Regions from separate parts of the Homo sapiens genome. Here all the other regions are reported to be linked to region 2. The links are microRNA targets in miRTarBase. Many come from high-throughput screens and were not tested one by one. Region 2 holds a microRNA gene; each other region holds the end of a gene's coding sequence.
The links. The annotated mature microRNA hsa-let-7e-5p reads UGAGGUAGGAGGUUGUAUAGUU and lies in region 2 at 2,212-2,233, opposite strand. An mRNA with a match to its seed (bases 2 to 7 or 8) in the 3' UTR can be bound and repressed. Matches are read on the target gene's strand: a 7mer-m8 pairs with bases 2 to 8, a 7mer-A1 pairs with bases 2 to 7 and ends in A, and an 8mer does both.

Region 1: miRTarBase lists NAT8L as a target of hsa-let-7e-5p. Seed matches in the 3' UTR shown: 7mer-m8 at 1,710-1,716.
Region 3: the mRNA of PAX3 is a reported target of hsa-let-7e-5p. Seed matches in the 3' UTR shown: 7mer-A1 at 3,680-3,686.

The regions. Positions count from the first base shown.
Region 1 is chr4:2,063,379-2,068,378 of GRCh38, reverse strand. NAT8L (N-acetyltransferase 8 like) reads right to left here. Exons shown (of 3, transcript NM_178557.4): 3 at 1-4,619. The coding sequence ends at 4,252. Among named protein-coding and RNA genes, the nearest start is that of NAT8L, 6.6 kb to the right of the region's middle. RefSeq lists an enhancer at 1,234-1,847.
Region 2 is chr19:51,689,854-51,695,025 of GRCh38, reverse strand. It overlaps MIRLET7E (microRNA let-7e), which reads right to left and starts at 2,240; the gene lies at 2,162-2,240. SPACA6 (sperm acrosome associated 6) reads right to left here and starts at 1,696. Exons shown (of 9, transcript NM_001316972.2): 1 at 1,286-1,696; 2 at 471-548. The coding sequence starts at 1,499. It overlaps SPACA6-AS1 (SPACA6 antisense RNA 1), which reads left to right and starts at 1,570. Exons shown (of 2, transcript NR_108100.1): 1 at 1,570-2,392. MIR99B (microRNA 99b) reads right to left here and starts at 2,414; the gene lies at 2,345-2,414. It also overlaps MIR125A. RefSeq lists enhancers at 3,421-4,230, 4,595-4,694, 4,231-5,038.
Region 3 is chr2:222,196,877-222,201,876 of GRCh38, forward strand. PAX3 (paired box 3) reads right to left here. Exons shown (of 9, transcript NM_181458.4): 9 at 3,011-4,566. The coding sequence ends at 4,532. Among named protein-coding and RNA genes, the nearest start is that of CCDC140, 99 kb to the right of the region's middle.

The sequences.
Region 1 (5,000 bases), not on the chromosome of region 2:
CACGTGCATGCTTATGCATACCCAAGACACAAACACATGTACACGCACACATGCGCACACACACGTACATCTATACACGTGCTCACGCATGTACACAACTCATGCACATGTACACCTATACACGTGTACACACACATGCATGCTCACGCGTGTACATGCTTATGCACCTACAACATGCACGTGCACAGGCTCACACATGCACACATGCTCACACTACACATATCCAAGAACCCACTTGCACACACACACACGCTCAAACACGTGCACATGCACACACACAGGTACATCCCTCCTTTAAAATGGCTAATTATTGCTGTTTTAAAAAAAATACATCCAACAATGGTATGTCCGGCTCGCCATCCTTCACCCCACCATGGCCCCGGGAGGCATCACGCCACCTCTGGAAGCACAGCAGCCGTGGCGCGGAGGAGTAAGCGGATCCCAGGGTCTGCAAGTCTGGAACTCAAACCCCAAGTGTCAGCTCTGTGGCCATCAGCCCAGGAACACAGGCCTGTGGCCAAACAGAAGCAGCTTCCAAACAGACATAAGCAAGTCAGCAGGCAACACAGGGTGCGCGACTGCAGCGCCAGCCCACGGGGGATGGCAGTGGGCTCCCTTGGCGCAGGGGCAACTGTCCCACCGTCCCTCGGGCACTGACAGGAAGGTGGCCCCACGAGGGCCCACACAGCCCCCTGCCCGGCGGGGCAACCACCTTCGGCCCCCACAAAGCCCAGGCGCCAGCAGAGCCCAGGAACCCAAGTTCCCAGCCTCAGGCCACCAGCACAGCCCTGGGTGCCCCAGGGCAGGCGGGCCTCTCAGAGGGGAGCCAGGTCCCTATGGCCCAGAGAGCTTCCCCAGCACCTGCCACACAGCCAGGAAGCTCAGGGCGTCCCCAGCCCGTCGTCCCCTCTAGGGCCTGCAGCCTTCTGCCATCTTCTCTGAGAAGGACACCCAGAGCAGGAGAGGGGTGGCCCCAGGACCTCGTGGCCTCAGGCCTGCTGTCCACAGGGCCTCCCAGGCCCAGCCTTCCCCCAGGGCCAGCCATCCACCCCTCAGGCCAGACTGACCCAGCCCTTGGCCCCTCCCTCCGGGGGCAGCTTCTCACCTGCTGCCCGGCCCCAAGGCATGCCACCAGCCGGAAGCAAGGCTGGGCATGGGGCGGAGGAAGGAGGAGGAGATGCCGCCACGGCTGCGGGGCTCAACTCCCTACGCTCAGGAGCCCTTCTGGGGGCCAGACCACATGGCAGCTTCAGCACAAGCAGGCCTCCCACCCTCAGGGACCAGGTCTGCAGCGACTCACACCTGGGCAGTGGCAGCTGCCTGGGGCCACCCCACCCCCAGCACAGCAAGACCCGTGGCTCTGGGCAGTGTGGGGCATCCCGAGGCGCTTCAGCCCTCAGCTGCCCGGAGCCTCTCGTCAGGCCTGCAGTGCTCGTCCAGTGAGGATGTCCTCCTTCGCCCAGCTCTGGCCCCAGGCACTGTCAGCCCCTCCCGCCTTCCACGCCCCCCACTCCAAAAACAGAGGCTTCCAAACACACAGAAATCCCAGGAGCCCCAGGCCCCTGAGCAGTGCTAGGGCCCGGCCTGGCTTTCCCCGGGCCTCACCACGCAGAGTTTGAGTGGTGGGTGCCCATGGGGAGCGGGCAGGGGGCCAGCACTCGGGGAAGCCGCACCAGCCACGTGACAGCAGGGCCCAGGAGGGCGCTTCAGAGGTAGAAGAAGTTACATCAGAGTTTCTACAAACGTATAAAATTCACGTCAGTGCACATGTGCAGAGCAGTGAGATCCCAGGCTGGAGGGATGAGGTGGGCCAGGTCAGGCCCACCCACCAGGCACCCGGCCTCCAGCCCCGGGGGAGGACACACCTACCCCCCAGTGGCCTTCAAGGGCGCCACCAAGCTACACATTGGCCTGGCAAGGGTTCCGGGCAGCTCCGCCCCAGCCTGGCAGGCACACCAGTGCCTCTGCTCACCTCAGGGGCGGCAGGGTTCTGCACACAACCACCCCGCACACCCTTCCTGCCATCTCTACCAAGTCCTGGCAGCAACAAAAAAGGCCAAGCGTCTCACCACCCACAGGGCAGTGCAGCCAAGGAAGAGGTCACTCACGGGCGCAGATGCCACCAGAATGAGAGAAGGCCACACTGCCCAGGACTCTCAGAACCCCCAGGAGGGGGATCTGCTAGGATCAATATCAAGGAGACACTGGCAGTCCCTGGGCCTCCAGGCCCTGCCCTGGCGTCGGTGGGCTCCAACAGCCACCCCCAAGCACCCTGCACCCCAGGAGCCCGAGGCTCCAAAGGCACAGGACCAAGGGACGCTGGCAGCACCCCGACATGACACCCCCAAGACCTGACTCCACCTGGCCCGCCCTGCCCCTCCTGCCCCCAGCATGCCCCGCACCAACTGGGACCAGCCCCAGGCCAAACCCAAACCAAACCAAAAGAGGAAAAAGGCACAACTGTTTGTTTCCATTTTGCTAAAACACTTTACGTCTGTCTGTATATTCCAGATTAACAAAATCTGAGCTGCAAGAAAATAGGGTGCCGATTTCTGTACAGTCTACAAAACTCCCATCCCCAAGCGGGGACCGGGCACCTCCAGGGAGGAATGTACAGGGGAGTGGGGTCTGTACAGTGCTCTGCACACCTCAATTGCTAACAGGACAAAAGGCCCTTGGACGCAGGGCTTCTCTGTCCCTTCGCTCGCTTCTGAAGCGCCTCGTGAGAAGCATCCCTCCATGGCCCTGCACGTGGCCTTGATGCCTGGGACCCAGTTCCGTGGCCCACCCTGCCTGCCACGACCCCTCCCCAATTCCCCCACACAAAGGGGTCTGGGCAAGTGTTTATTCTTCTCCTGCCACCAAAGCCAGGTCCACTTCTAAGCTGAATGTGCAGCCTGTGCCACCCTCCACCTCTGTCTCCCCTTCCAGGCCACCCCCCCCGCCCCCCGTCCAGGGCAGCCCCTGCCTGTGACCTCAGGAAGGAGAGACCAGGAGCATGGCCAGCGGAAGCCGAGGCGGCCACCCCTCTTCCCACCCAGCCCAAGGCAGCGCCCTGCCCCTCCTCCCGGAGGCTGCGGACTCCCTTGCCCCCCACCCTGCCCACACTGCAGGCCAGGGCTGGGAGGCGTGCTCCATGGCAGGAAATGACATCCAATCAGGGTTTCCCTCCAGGTTTCCAACAGCAAAACGCTCCACCCACCCGGCCACCCACCCCCATCACACTGGGCCAGAAACTGTGTCTTAGGGTACAAACTACCGTTTTGTCCCAAGAATTAAAGTCATGCAGAGTGCTATTCTGTCTAAATAACTTATTAGAAAATGTGTTGGTTTCAGGCTGGGAGAAGCTGTGGGCTGGGCGCTGTTGGCAGCAGCCTGGGCTGATAAGATTCACAGGGTGGACCGTCAGCCAGAGGCAGGAGGTCCCCGGGGACATCTGGGAGAGGCCAGCACGATCCAGTGGGCACTGGGGAGAGGGGTCCCATGGACCCCCACCCTGGCTGTGCCACGGACGCCATGGGAGTCACCTGGGTGATGACACCAGTCAGCACAGCCCAGGCAGGGGAGGGGCCGGAGCCAGAGAAATGGAGGGCGTCAGAGCAAAGCAGGTGTGGACAGAGCCGGGCGGCGCGGGGCAGACCAGGCCCTCCAGGAGGTGGGGGCAGGGGCAGGCCCTCCCACAGCCAGCTGGGGGCTGGGGACAGGGGCGCTCACCAGCCCGGGTCTCCGGGTCCAGTCTGGGCAGGGCGGCAGGGCGGGGCTGTGTGCATGCGGCATGCTCAGCCGGGCCACACCCTCGGCATGCGCGGAGCAAAGCAGCGCCGTGGCCAGCTGGGGCCTCCACAGGCAGTGGCGCTGGGGCCGCAGGCGGGGCCGGAGCCTGGCCCCGGGATCTGCTGCAGAGGTTCTGTGCTTGGTGAGCAAGGCTGGGCCTTCCCCAGTGGCGGCGGGCAGGGCAGCGTCATGGACAGCCGCGGTGGTCCAAGATGCCACTCTTCAGGTGGCAAGCCGCCCAGGCAGGTGGGGAAGGGCGAGGGGCTATGGCGACAAACAACCCACCCCCACCAAAGTGTCGCCGAAGAACAACAGCCCCGCACCCCCCGGAACCAGCCAGACAACCGCAGGATGTTGAAAAGGGGAAACCCAACACAAACGCCAATTGAGCGTCTGAAAGCAGGCCGCGCCGGGCGGCGGGCAGGCGGGCAAAGGCGGACAGGGCGGCCGGGGGGGCGGGCGGGCGAGCGGCGGCGGTCACTCCTCGCGCAGCTGCAGGCGGTAGCGGTGGTAGCGGACCTGGAAGAAGAGGCGCTCAGCCAGCGAGAGGGTCATGCCCGGCAGCACGTAGTGGTCACTGGCGCCCATGTGTCTGAAGCCCAGCGACTCGTAGAGCTTGTGGGCGGCCACCTTGACGGCCGTCGTGCCCAGCACCACCGCGGAGTAGTTGTGCACCACGGCGAACTCCAGCACCTTCCGGCCCAGCGCCTTGGCGATGCCCTTGCCTCGGAAACGTGAGTCCACAGACATCCGCAGCAGCTCCACCGTGTTGTCCTCCTCGTGGGCCCGTGCAGCCACAATGCCCACCACGTTGCCATCCAGCACGGCCACCCAGAAGCAGGAGCCTGCAGGGGATAGGGCGGTCAGGGACACCCGGTGAGGAAGGCTGGGGAGACCCCTCCACCTCTGGGGTGAGACAGGGCCCTTGGCACTGCCCCCTCCAGCTGGACACCAAGCCAGGGCAGTGGGACACCCAATCCCGGCAGCCCCCGGGGCCTAGCTACCAGCTCTGCTGGAGCCAAGGGAGGGGGCAGCCACTATTCAGGACAAGCAGGTAGAGCCCCCCTCCAGAGCTCCTTAAGCAGAGAAAGCCAGCCCAACACCTGTTACCCAACAGGCCAACAGCCAGGACCCACTCAAGCCTGGAGGCTGCGCTGCTCAGAGTAGTGGTCAAAGGCCCGAGTCCCTCCTCTGAGACCAAGAGCTGGGGCAGGCTTTGCCCAGTC
Region 2 (5,172 bases):
GTTCTATCCTAGAGGAAGATGCCTTCCCTAAGATCAGGCTCATCAGGCAGCCCCAACCCCTGCACTGAGCTCCATGGCCATCCTAGGAGGCAAGAAGATTGTCCCACTTTACAGATGGGTAAGTTGAGGCCAGGAGAGGGGCAGTGACACACCCAGAACTTCATAGCCAGTAAGAGTGTGAGCCATGCAGCCATGGCAGAACCTATGCCTACCCGACCCCATCTGGACTTCCAGCTCTAGGCAATTTCTGCAGCGTCCCTTCCCCCTCACCACCTTCAGCCCCTGGCTCTTAGAGCTGCCTTCAGCCTTCGTTTGGACAAGTAGCTGAGCTCAATGTCTTCCCAGCTTTCCCCTCCCGGATCACTGCCCAACTCTGGGGGCCTCCTTCCTCTGCCCTGGGCCCTCCCACATACCCATTTCTTAGGGGCTCCAAGTCCACATCTCCCATCTCCCCATCCCCACACACTCACCCTGGGCAGCAGCCAGCTCCTGCAGGGCATGGGTCATCTGGGTGAAGGTGTCATGCAGGTGGCTTCTCTCATCATAGTCTGGCGGTGAGGGAGGGAGCAGGGGCTGGGGGAGGCAGCTCCCCGCAACACCATGTCCCTAATGCGAACATTCTGTTTCTGAGTCTCTGCCCTCCCAAGTCTGTATCCTCCCCTCTCTGACTCTTTGCCCCACAGTCGCTATGCTTCCTGAGTCCCTCCCAAGTCTCTATCCTCCCTGAGTCTCTGCCCCCGACCAGTCGCTATCCTGCTTCCCCTAGTCTCTGCCTCATCTCTGTCCTCCTCTCTCTGGGTTTCCATCCTCTTTGAGTCTCCATCTTCCACCCTCTGAGTCTCCATCCTCCCCTCTCTGGGTCTCTATTCCCTCTCCAGTCTCCAACCTCTCCTGACTCTCCATCCTCCCCTTTCTATGAGTCTCCATCCTCCTGACTCTCCATCCTCCCGAGTGTCCATCCTCCCCTCTCTGACTCTCCATACTCCTGAGTCTCCATCTTTCCGAGTCTCCATCTTCCTCTCTCTCTGAGTCTCCATCCTCCCCCTCTCTGAGTCTCCATCTTCCCCTCTCTGACTCTCCATCCTCCCCTCTCTGAGTCTTTGCCCTGCTGTCTTCCCCTGTCTGTGTCTCTCTGTCCCTAAGTCTCTGTTGTTCTCATGGTCTTTGAGCCTTTCTCCTCTGACTGTTTCTCTCTGTCTGTCCCTCAGCCTGACCCTCTGGGCCTCTCCTGCCCTCCCTCTGCACCTTCCCCAGGACACTGATGAAGTGTGGATGGTCTCCTCACTGATTTCGGTGTCAGAGAGGCCCTGGAAGGCGGCCGTGAAGGCCTCCTCACACTCTTCAAGCTTGGGGCTCCGCATCCCAACAAACATCTGGCAGATGCGGAGGCGCTCAGAGTAGGTTGTGAAGCAGAGGAGACAGGCCCAGGCGGGCACCCTGAAGACAGCCAGGGCCAGCAGGGCAGACGGGACGGCACTGGCCAGAGCCAGCAGGGCCATCGTGTGGGTCTCAAGGCCAGGGGAGAAGCTAGTAACCTTTATGAAGTCACCACAGGGCGGGGGAAGGGCCAGTGGTCTGGGGTCAGAGGTCAGGTTTCAGTTGGTGGTCAAATGTCATGCTCTGGAGGAAGGGTATGAGGAGTCAGGGGTCAGAAGTCAGGCCAGCAATTCCCCAGGTGTGTGGTTGGGCCAGACGCCAGGCTCCCAAGAACCTCACCTGTGACCCTGGATGTCCTCACAGGTTAAAGGGTCTCAGGGACCTAGAGACTGGCAACATGGTGTGCGGTGGCCCGGTAGACCCTGGGGTGGGGGTCAGAGATGGAGATAGGCACAGAGACATTCTGAGAGCCAGAGACAGAAAGACCAAAAACGACAGAAATAGAGACACAGAGAGATATCGGGAGGGGCAGAGACCTAGAAAGCCAGAATAAGAGGGAGTCAGAGGATCCACTGTGAAAGAGACACAGAAGCCACAGAGACACAGCAGAGATGGAGACAGACAGGGAAGGAAAACAGATTTCAGGGGAAGGAGGGGATGCAGGGACAAGGACAGAAAAGAGCCCGGCTCTTCCTCCCAGGGTCCCTGGGGCAGCCCAGTGGGGCTAAGGGTCCCTGAGTGGGGCTGGGGGTCCCCGCCGGGCCCCGTCCCGTGCAGGGCGCAGCCTGGGGAAAGCTAGGAGGCCGTATAGTGATCTCCTTGGGTGTCCTCCTCAACTATACAACCTCCTACCTCAGCCCGGGGGGCGCGGCAGGTGGACAGACCCGACAGACAGACAGACAGGGACCAGGAGGACCAGGGATGAGGGGGAGGGCCGGGGAGGCCCCAGCCGCGATGGTGAGCCCCCGACACGGACCCACAGACACGAGCTTGTGTGCGGCGAAGGCCCCGCAAGGTCGGTTCTACGGGTGGGTGCCAGGACCCAGGAGTCCGGGCCCCCGGCCCCTCCTCCCCAAGGAACCCAGGAGTCCAGGCCCTCAGCCCCTTCCTCATCAGGGACCCTGGAGTCAAGGCTCTCATCCCCCTCCTCCCTAAAGAACCCAGAAGTCTAGGCCCTTCCTCACCACAGACCCAGGAATCCAGGCCTCTGGCCCTTTTCTCCCCAAATGTTCCTGGAATCCAAGGACTCAGCCCCTTCCTCCCTCAGACTCATGAGTCCAGATCCAAAGCCTCCTTCTCCCCAGAGACCCAGGAGTCCCTGCCCCCAGCCCCTCCTCCCTCCGGCCAGGCAGGCCTCCTGGGGAAGGCATGGCCTGATAGAAAACCTGGCTTCCTGGGTGCCGGCTGGGAGGGAACCTCATTTGTCTCGTAATTTGGCCCTTTGGGCACACCTGCTTCCTACCTACCCTCCTGTCAGTCTGCAGAGACTCCAGGCCCAGGGCTAAGGAGGCCAGGGGCTAGCCAACCATCAGAGCCTCCCTAGGTGCTTTCTTTCCTCTCTCCTCCCTTCTTTGGGTCATTTACAACTATGACAGCCACAATCTCCCAGCGCTGACCCCATACCAGGCCCTGAGCACCAGTCCTCTCCCTGACACCTCCCACTCCAGAGAGCGAGGTGCCCTCAGCATCCCCATTTGGCAGGTGAGGGGGCTGAGCCTCAGAGAGGGGAAGAGGCTCCCAAAGTCTGCCCAGCCCCATCTCTGTCCTCCCTCTTGAATCCAGGAGGTGTCCCCAGCCTTCTCCAGCTTCTGGACCCCGGGACCCAGCACCCACCCTCCCCACCCCTGGGCTCTGAGCCCCTCCAGCTGGGGTCTCTCCCGTGCCCAGCCCCTCCTCCTGGACTGTCTGGTTCTCGCTGCCCCTGCTCCAGGCGCACCTTCCGGTTCCTTTCTCGCAGTCCAGGTCTCTCTGGCCCTGCCTTTTTCTCTCTCCCTCTTTCTTTCCACCTTCCCTGGTTCCCAGCCTCCTCCTGCATCAGGACATCCCTCCCTGGCTCTGCGCTGGCTTCTCTCTCTGCCCATCGCCTCTCTCCTCTCCCCGCTTCTGTTTTCTTCCTTCTCTCCCCCTCTTTCTCCTGCTTTTCCTCTACCTTCTGTCTTTCATCCTCCCCTTCTCCCCCTTCCCCCTCTTTGTCTCTCTCATTCTCTCTCTGGCCCTCTCTCAGTCTCTCTCCTCTTTCTCACCCTTCTCCACCCCCTTTTTTCGGATGTCTTTCCTCACTTCCTCTCCCTCCGCCCCTTCCCTCTCTCCATCCCTCACCTCCGTCTCCTGCTCTCTCTCAGTCTCTGTCTCTCTCCCTCTCTCTCTCCTTCCCTCCCTCTTAGGTCTCTCTCTTTCCTCCCCTCCCCCTTCTCTCTTTGGGTCTCCCTCCCTTCTCTCTCTCTCTTTTCTCCTTCCCTCTCTCCCTCCCCCTCGCAGCTCGAGCCAGGTCTGGAGCTGGGGGTGGGGTGGGGGTGGTTTGAGAAGGGGCCCAGGGCTGGGGTAGCGACCTGAGGAGGGGGAGGAGAGGCGGGAAAGGGGCGGAGGAGGAAAGGGGGAGGCGGGGGCCGGAGACGGGTCTACGGCCAGCTCTCTTCCCCCTTCCCTCCTTCCCAACCTCCCAGACCCTCAGGCGGGGGCGAGAGTCAGGCCAAGGTGGGGAGGAAGGGGAAGGGAGGAGGCTGCCCCCGCCCCCACCCCCCCACACCAACCTGGCCCGGAGCCCAGGCCTGGGTTCCCAGCATGCCCCGGGGCTGCCTGGGGCCTGAGGAGGAGGGTGAGGGGAGAGGGGAAGCCGAGAATCTCAGAGATTCCCCGGACCTAAGCATCTCCCCCACCCGCCAACCAGTGTCTCCTTGGGGAAACTGAGGCGGAGAGAGAAGGGTCAGGACTTGTTCAAGGTCACTGGACAAGGCGTTGGTGGAAACGCGAACTCCCTGGGCCCATAGCCCCGCTTTGGGGAAGGGGTAGGCTCTGGACTTCCCCCAGGCCTAGGTCCCCCTCCCCCTCTCTGCGGACCCTGGGGAGCCCCCAAGGGTCAGAGAGCAGACCCAAACAGTCTGGCACCATGGCAACTAGCTGGTCCCGCCCCCTTAACCCCTGGAGGGCTGGACTCCAGCTGGGGCTAAAGAGGAGGTGGGGACTCCTGGGTTCCGGAGGAGGAGGGGCCTGGGGATCCCCAGAACTGCAGGCTTCAAAGGGAGAAAGATGCCGGAGCCTGAACGCTTGGGTTCTAGAGGAACAGAGGGTTGGGGGCCGCGCTCCTTGGGAAGAGGGGCTGAGGTTCTGAACTCTGGGGTTTTGAAGGAGTTAGGGGCTGGAGTGTGGATTCCCTGGTCTGAGAGAACAGACTGGGGGCTCAGACTCCTGGATCCTGGAAAAAAGGGGGCTGGGGGCTCGGATTCTGGAATGGGTGGGGGACTGGGTGGTGTACTCCCAGATCTGAGGGAGGAGGGGTCTGGGACCTGGAATCCCGGGTCCCCGAGGGAGCATGGATGCTGGGCCTCTCCTCCTCCAGACATCTCCTGCCCCCGCCGCTGACCCTGGCCTGTCTGGCAGCCCAGACAACCTCCCCCTCCTCCTCGGCCCCCTCCCACTGGCACGGCTCACCCTTGACCCCTCAAAGCCCCGCAGCCCCATCCCTGCGCCTCCCCCTCCCCTCCAGCCAGACGTTAACCCTTCCGCTGCCGCAGGCACTCCAAAGCCAGTCTTCCTCCACCTCCCCCGAGGGCTCGGGCAGCTCGCCCCTAGTCTCTT
Region 3 (5,000 bases), not on the chromosome of region 2:
TGTATCCTCTGCTACAGTCAAAATCATCAGAAATATGGCTTTTGAGTGACTTGTTAGGCCAGCTGCCTCTCACTCCTTCCCTAAGACTTCATACCAATCTAACCTGGTGGCAATCTGTGCACCTTTGGTCATGCAAATGTCTCCCTGCTCAGAAGATCATGTAGGGACAGTATAAGAAAATCACTTTTCATCTATTTATTTATTCATTTATTCAACAGGCATGTATTGAGTACCTGTAATGGATCAGACATGGTGCTAGGCACTTGGGACACCATGGTCAGCAATTCCAAAGGGGGATCTATGGAATAAAGAGAACTAACTCATATCACAGCCATCTGGTGAGAAGTCCTATACACAGCTCTGTTTTCTTCCTTTTCTCTCATACGTCATCTACCACTGACTTCCAGCTCCATGAGCACTTTTCTGAGGCTGAGGCTTGCCATGTGGAACTTTTTGCACAAATACTGCCACTCGTCACTTACTGTGCCCACCATGTTTGACACCGGCTTTCCTTATCCATGAATGACTTAACACCAAGACTCATTCACTCAGAATGGTTGAGGCTCAGGTAAATAGATTTCCTTTTTATAGATACTTTGGTTCTGGTCCTGTGTATTAATTTTAACTCTTAATTATGTAGTTTTCAGATAGATTCTTCCATGCCATATTCAGATAAAAGGCATTAATGAATCCATCTCCTTCTCCATTTAAGACTTCCTAAACTTATAGCCATGAGCCAGTGATCTTGTCTCTTACTCTGGTTCTATATGCCAGCACTAATGAAGATCCCTTCTAACCTAGGATGTTTCCCAAGCATCCAAGTGTGTATGAAAACACATTTCCAGACTGGGCTAAATCAAAAGCATAAAACAATATGCTTGTTTCTGTCACAGATGTGAAATGTATGATATCTATTCCTAGAAAAATTGCTGCCAAGGAATGGCTCAGCAGCTGACAATGGTACATCCACAATTTAATAATTTGAGTTTTAATTTTCAGCTCTTACTTTTAATTTTTCAAATGAAATCAAATAACTACATGGGCAAGGGGGAACCCCCCACATACAATCAGGTTCAAGTTCTGTTGAATGTCAAAGGGTCAAAGTTCTTAGGGCTGCTTGTCCCAGCAAATGAGGGTAGGAACTCTGACTGAAAGAAATCAGGTCACATTTCCCCAGAAATTGATTAGATATTTTAAGAGTCTGGAGAAAAAAGATCTACAGGGACTTTCAACATGAGAAGTAACAGCAGAGAAGTAGATTTCAAAGACATGCAGAAATAAGAAAAGGACACAAAGAAGTATATCAAAATAAGATATAAGCCATTCATGACAAGTTCTGATATCAGGAGACAGAAAGGAAAACTGATCATGTAAAATGAGTTTCTCTTGTGTAATCTGAATCCTGGCAGCATTCCTCTCATGTATTGGGAGTGAATGATTTTTTTAAATGCCTGTTTGCAACTTGAGTTTGGCATGAGGATAGACTGATATAATTAAGTGGGTAAAACAAACAGGTTCTGCCACATGGTTGCATAGAAGTCAAAGCCTTCTTTTGCCATTTCTGGCTATATGTAATGTTGGCCCAACTGCTTAACAGCTTTGGCCTCAGTCCATTCATCTATAAGTTTGGGTGAATAACACCCACCTTACGGGACATTGTGAGGATTAAACAAGACAATAAAAGTAAATGTGCTGTAAAGATTAACTTCCTTTCCTCTTAAATTATTTTTGGAAAAATTGTCAGAAGAAGAGCAACACATTTGATCAGAAAGATAAGTGTGTGAGCTAAAAAAAAAAAAATAAAGCATTTTACAACTTTGGAAAATGTTACCCACTGCATTTCAAGTTTTTGATATTGTTAAACTATGAACTCACGTGCATTCAATCAGCTGACCAGTCAACTTTCCTGTGATGTGGAATGTCCCACAGCAACAATCCCCAGTATGGCAGCTTCTGGCCTCGTGTGACTATCGCACACTTGAAATGTGGCTAGTGCAACTTAGGAACTAATTTTGTCATTTTATGTACTTTTGTTTCTTTAAATTTAAATAGGGATACATGGCTAGTAGCTTCTGAATTGGACAGCACCCTTTTAGATCTTCCTGACTGTAAGGTTCTCTCACACCAGTCTTGAGGAAGCAGAAGAGCATGAGTTTAAACACCTTGGGCACTGAGATTGTACTAGGTTCAAATCCTAGCTCTGCCACTGAGTGATTCATGTAAGTTCCTTGAGCCTCAGTTTTCTCATCTGTACAAAAGGAATGGTAGTGACATCACTTGCTGCATGTGACATGTGGAGAGTAATAAATAAGTTAATACAAGTAAGAGCTTCAAAAGGTATTATGATTATTCCTTCTAAAATAACAGTCCTCACACTTTATTGAAACTATGCATTTACTTCTCTGCCTTCTCTACTAGGCTACAAGCACCGCTATAACACAAGTGCCAATCACCATGCCTGGCACATTTGGACTCTCATTAAATACATTCAGGAAGAAGGGAAGGAGGGAGGGAGAGGAGAAAGGATCAGGAGAGGGAGGGAAGGAGAAGGAAGAAAGGAAGAATGAATGAAGTACGCAGTAATACCTTTCATGAAGAATAAAGTAGGCTGCTAAAATAAAATAAATAAAATATGAGAGTTTTAAATAAAAATTTCCGTGGAGATGACTTAGAGATGAAGATGGAACCGGGTACTCCAGGGAAAACATATCTCTAAGTGACAGTAAAGGGACTGGATAACTCTGAGAGAACCAAAGAAAGATGAAGGAAGCTAAACTGAAGGGTTTTTCTAGATGCTACACTGATAAAAACATAAACTTCAATCCTTAAAAGTGTGTTCAACCAAGCTTCTTCAAGAGAATACAACTGTGGGTTGTGTAACCTTATTTGTCGACAGAATACTCTCATAGAAAGGGTCCACCAGAAGTGAAGTTCATGTACATTGGGCTCCCCATTGCCAAGTTTTCATTTATACTACATTCACCAGTTCCCCCAAAAAAGCAGTAGTGGGCAAGTTTTCATAACTGTTTATTCATTATAAATAGTAAATATTTACTGCACTTTTTACATGAAAGACATTTTTACAACACATTGTTGTTGGTTGAGGCTGCAACACAAAGATAGTACTTCTCTTGTTCCATCACCCTCTAAGACCAATGCATGAACTAAATTCGGTACTATGTCTAGTCTCACTAACTCGCTACGTCATAGTTCTTAACTCTAAAAGGAATGTATTTGTGCCTACCTCATTCGTGGTTCCAAGAATAGAAAGAAATAAATAACACTGCCTTCCACCTTCTTGTTCCTCTCAACATCTCAAAAAGCAAATTTATTGACATTCTAAAATGTCACCACACAAACGTATGTAAACCTCAGTTCCTATAATCTTTTAATATTGGATATCATTGTATAATTTAAAAGTACATGAGAGCCATGTGAACACTTCTGTTCTTGCCCTGCCTTTCATAGAAAAGAGAAGAATGTAAACGTAATCAGTTTAAAAGCATAATTATCTGATCTGGTCTCTAATCAAAGGAGCAACCCGGGTGTTGGTTGTCCAGCAAATGGCAAACATCACTGCACTCTATCACTATGAATTATGGGCTGTGAAAATAAAAGCACCTGCAAAAATATACTTCTGATTTTGCTTATATCGCCTTGGGCATTGCCAAAGCATCCATGAGGTACACAGTATTGCACACTGATAAGCAGATATGTGAATGCATGTCACTTTCTCTCCACCGTGCCCTTCCTCCAACCCAGGTGGGCTACCAAATAAATGTGAACTGGAAAAACGTCACACACCTCTCCCCACACAGGAAAGGGAAACAAGTCCTTCTTCCTGGTAGCCCATATCCTGTTAGCAAGACATGTCCGGGCCATTTATTGACAACTAGATTACAAATGAGGATACAGTAACAAATAATTTATTTAGGAGGTCCTTTACAGCTAGTCTAGCTTCCTAAAAATGGTTGCATTTATCTTTATTTCAATTTCCAGTGTGTAAGAGTCAAGGATTCCTCCATTCTTGCTTCATGAAATGAGCAGTTTTAAAGTTGTAGAAGTATCAGCATCGAACATCGACATGTTATACTTTAGGGTATTCTATTATATTTTAGAACAGTCTGCTTGCCCAAACCAGTCTGGGTAAATCTCAATACACACACACACACACACACGCACGCACGCACACAAGCAAATGGAATGTTCTAGCTCCTCGATGATCAGCACTAAAGAATTGGGATGTTTTGATATGTAACCATGTGAAACCATTGCCTTAAAATGTTGCATTTGTCTTTTATTGCTCCAGGTCTTCCTCTTCTCCACTGCTTTTGTCGAACGTGTTCAAAAGGATTTGAAACCAACTATTGGAGGAAGAAAATCAATCACTCTCCTTTGTCTCCTATTGGGACCACTGCCCCACCCCCCCCAACAAAAGGGTAATTTTTTTTTGTTTTCAGAGCAGATTCTTCATATCTAGGCTGCGAAGACCAGAAACAGGGCCAGTTTTAGCTCCAAGTGGACAGTTCACTTACGCGATATCTGGCTTGAGATAATGAAAGGCACCTGTAAGGAAACACACGCAGCTTTTTAGGTCATGCTGGGACAATTCACAGTCAGGGGCAAGATCAGCTACAGGCTGACAATGTCATATTTAATACCGTGCTATCAAAGGCTTGAGACTAATATTTTTATTCCTGAGACAAGTTTGACACAACTTTGTGTCCCTGGGATTATCCCCCATATGATCCTGGAGCTGACCTCATTAAGAACATGTGTTTCTAATGTCAGGGATTATTTCATTTTGGCCAACCCTTGTGTTTTACCTAGTGGCAATCAGGTTTCACGTCTCAACAATTAATAACCGCAAGATGTTGTTGACATCAGTTAAGAAAATAATTACACAAGGAAGCCCCTGCTGGAACAGTCAGCTGGCTTTGCAAAAAAAAAAAAAAATTGATACCGGCATGTGTGGCTTAATCTTGCCTCTAATTCACCTT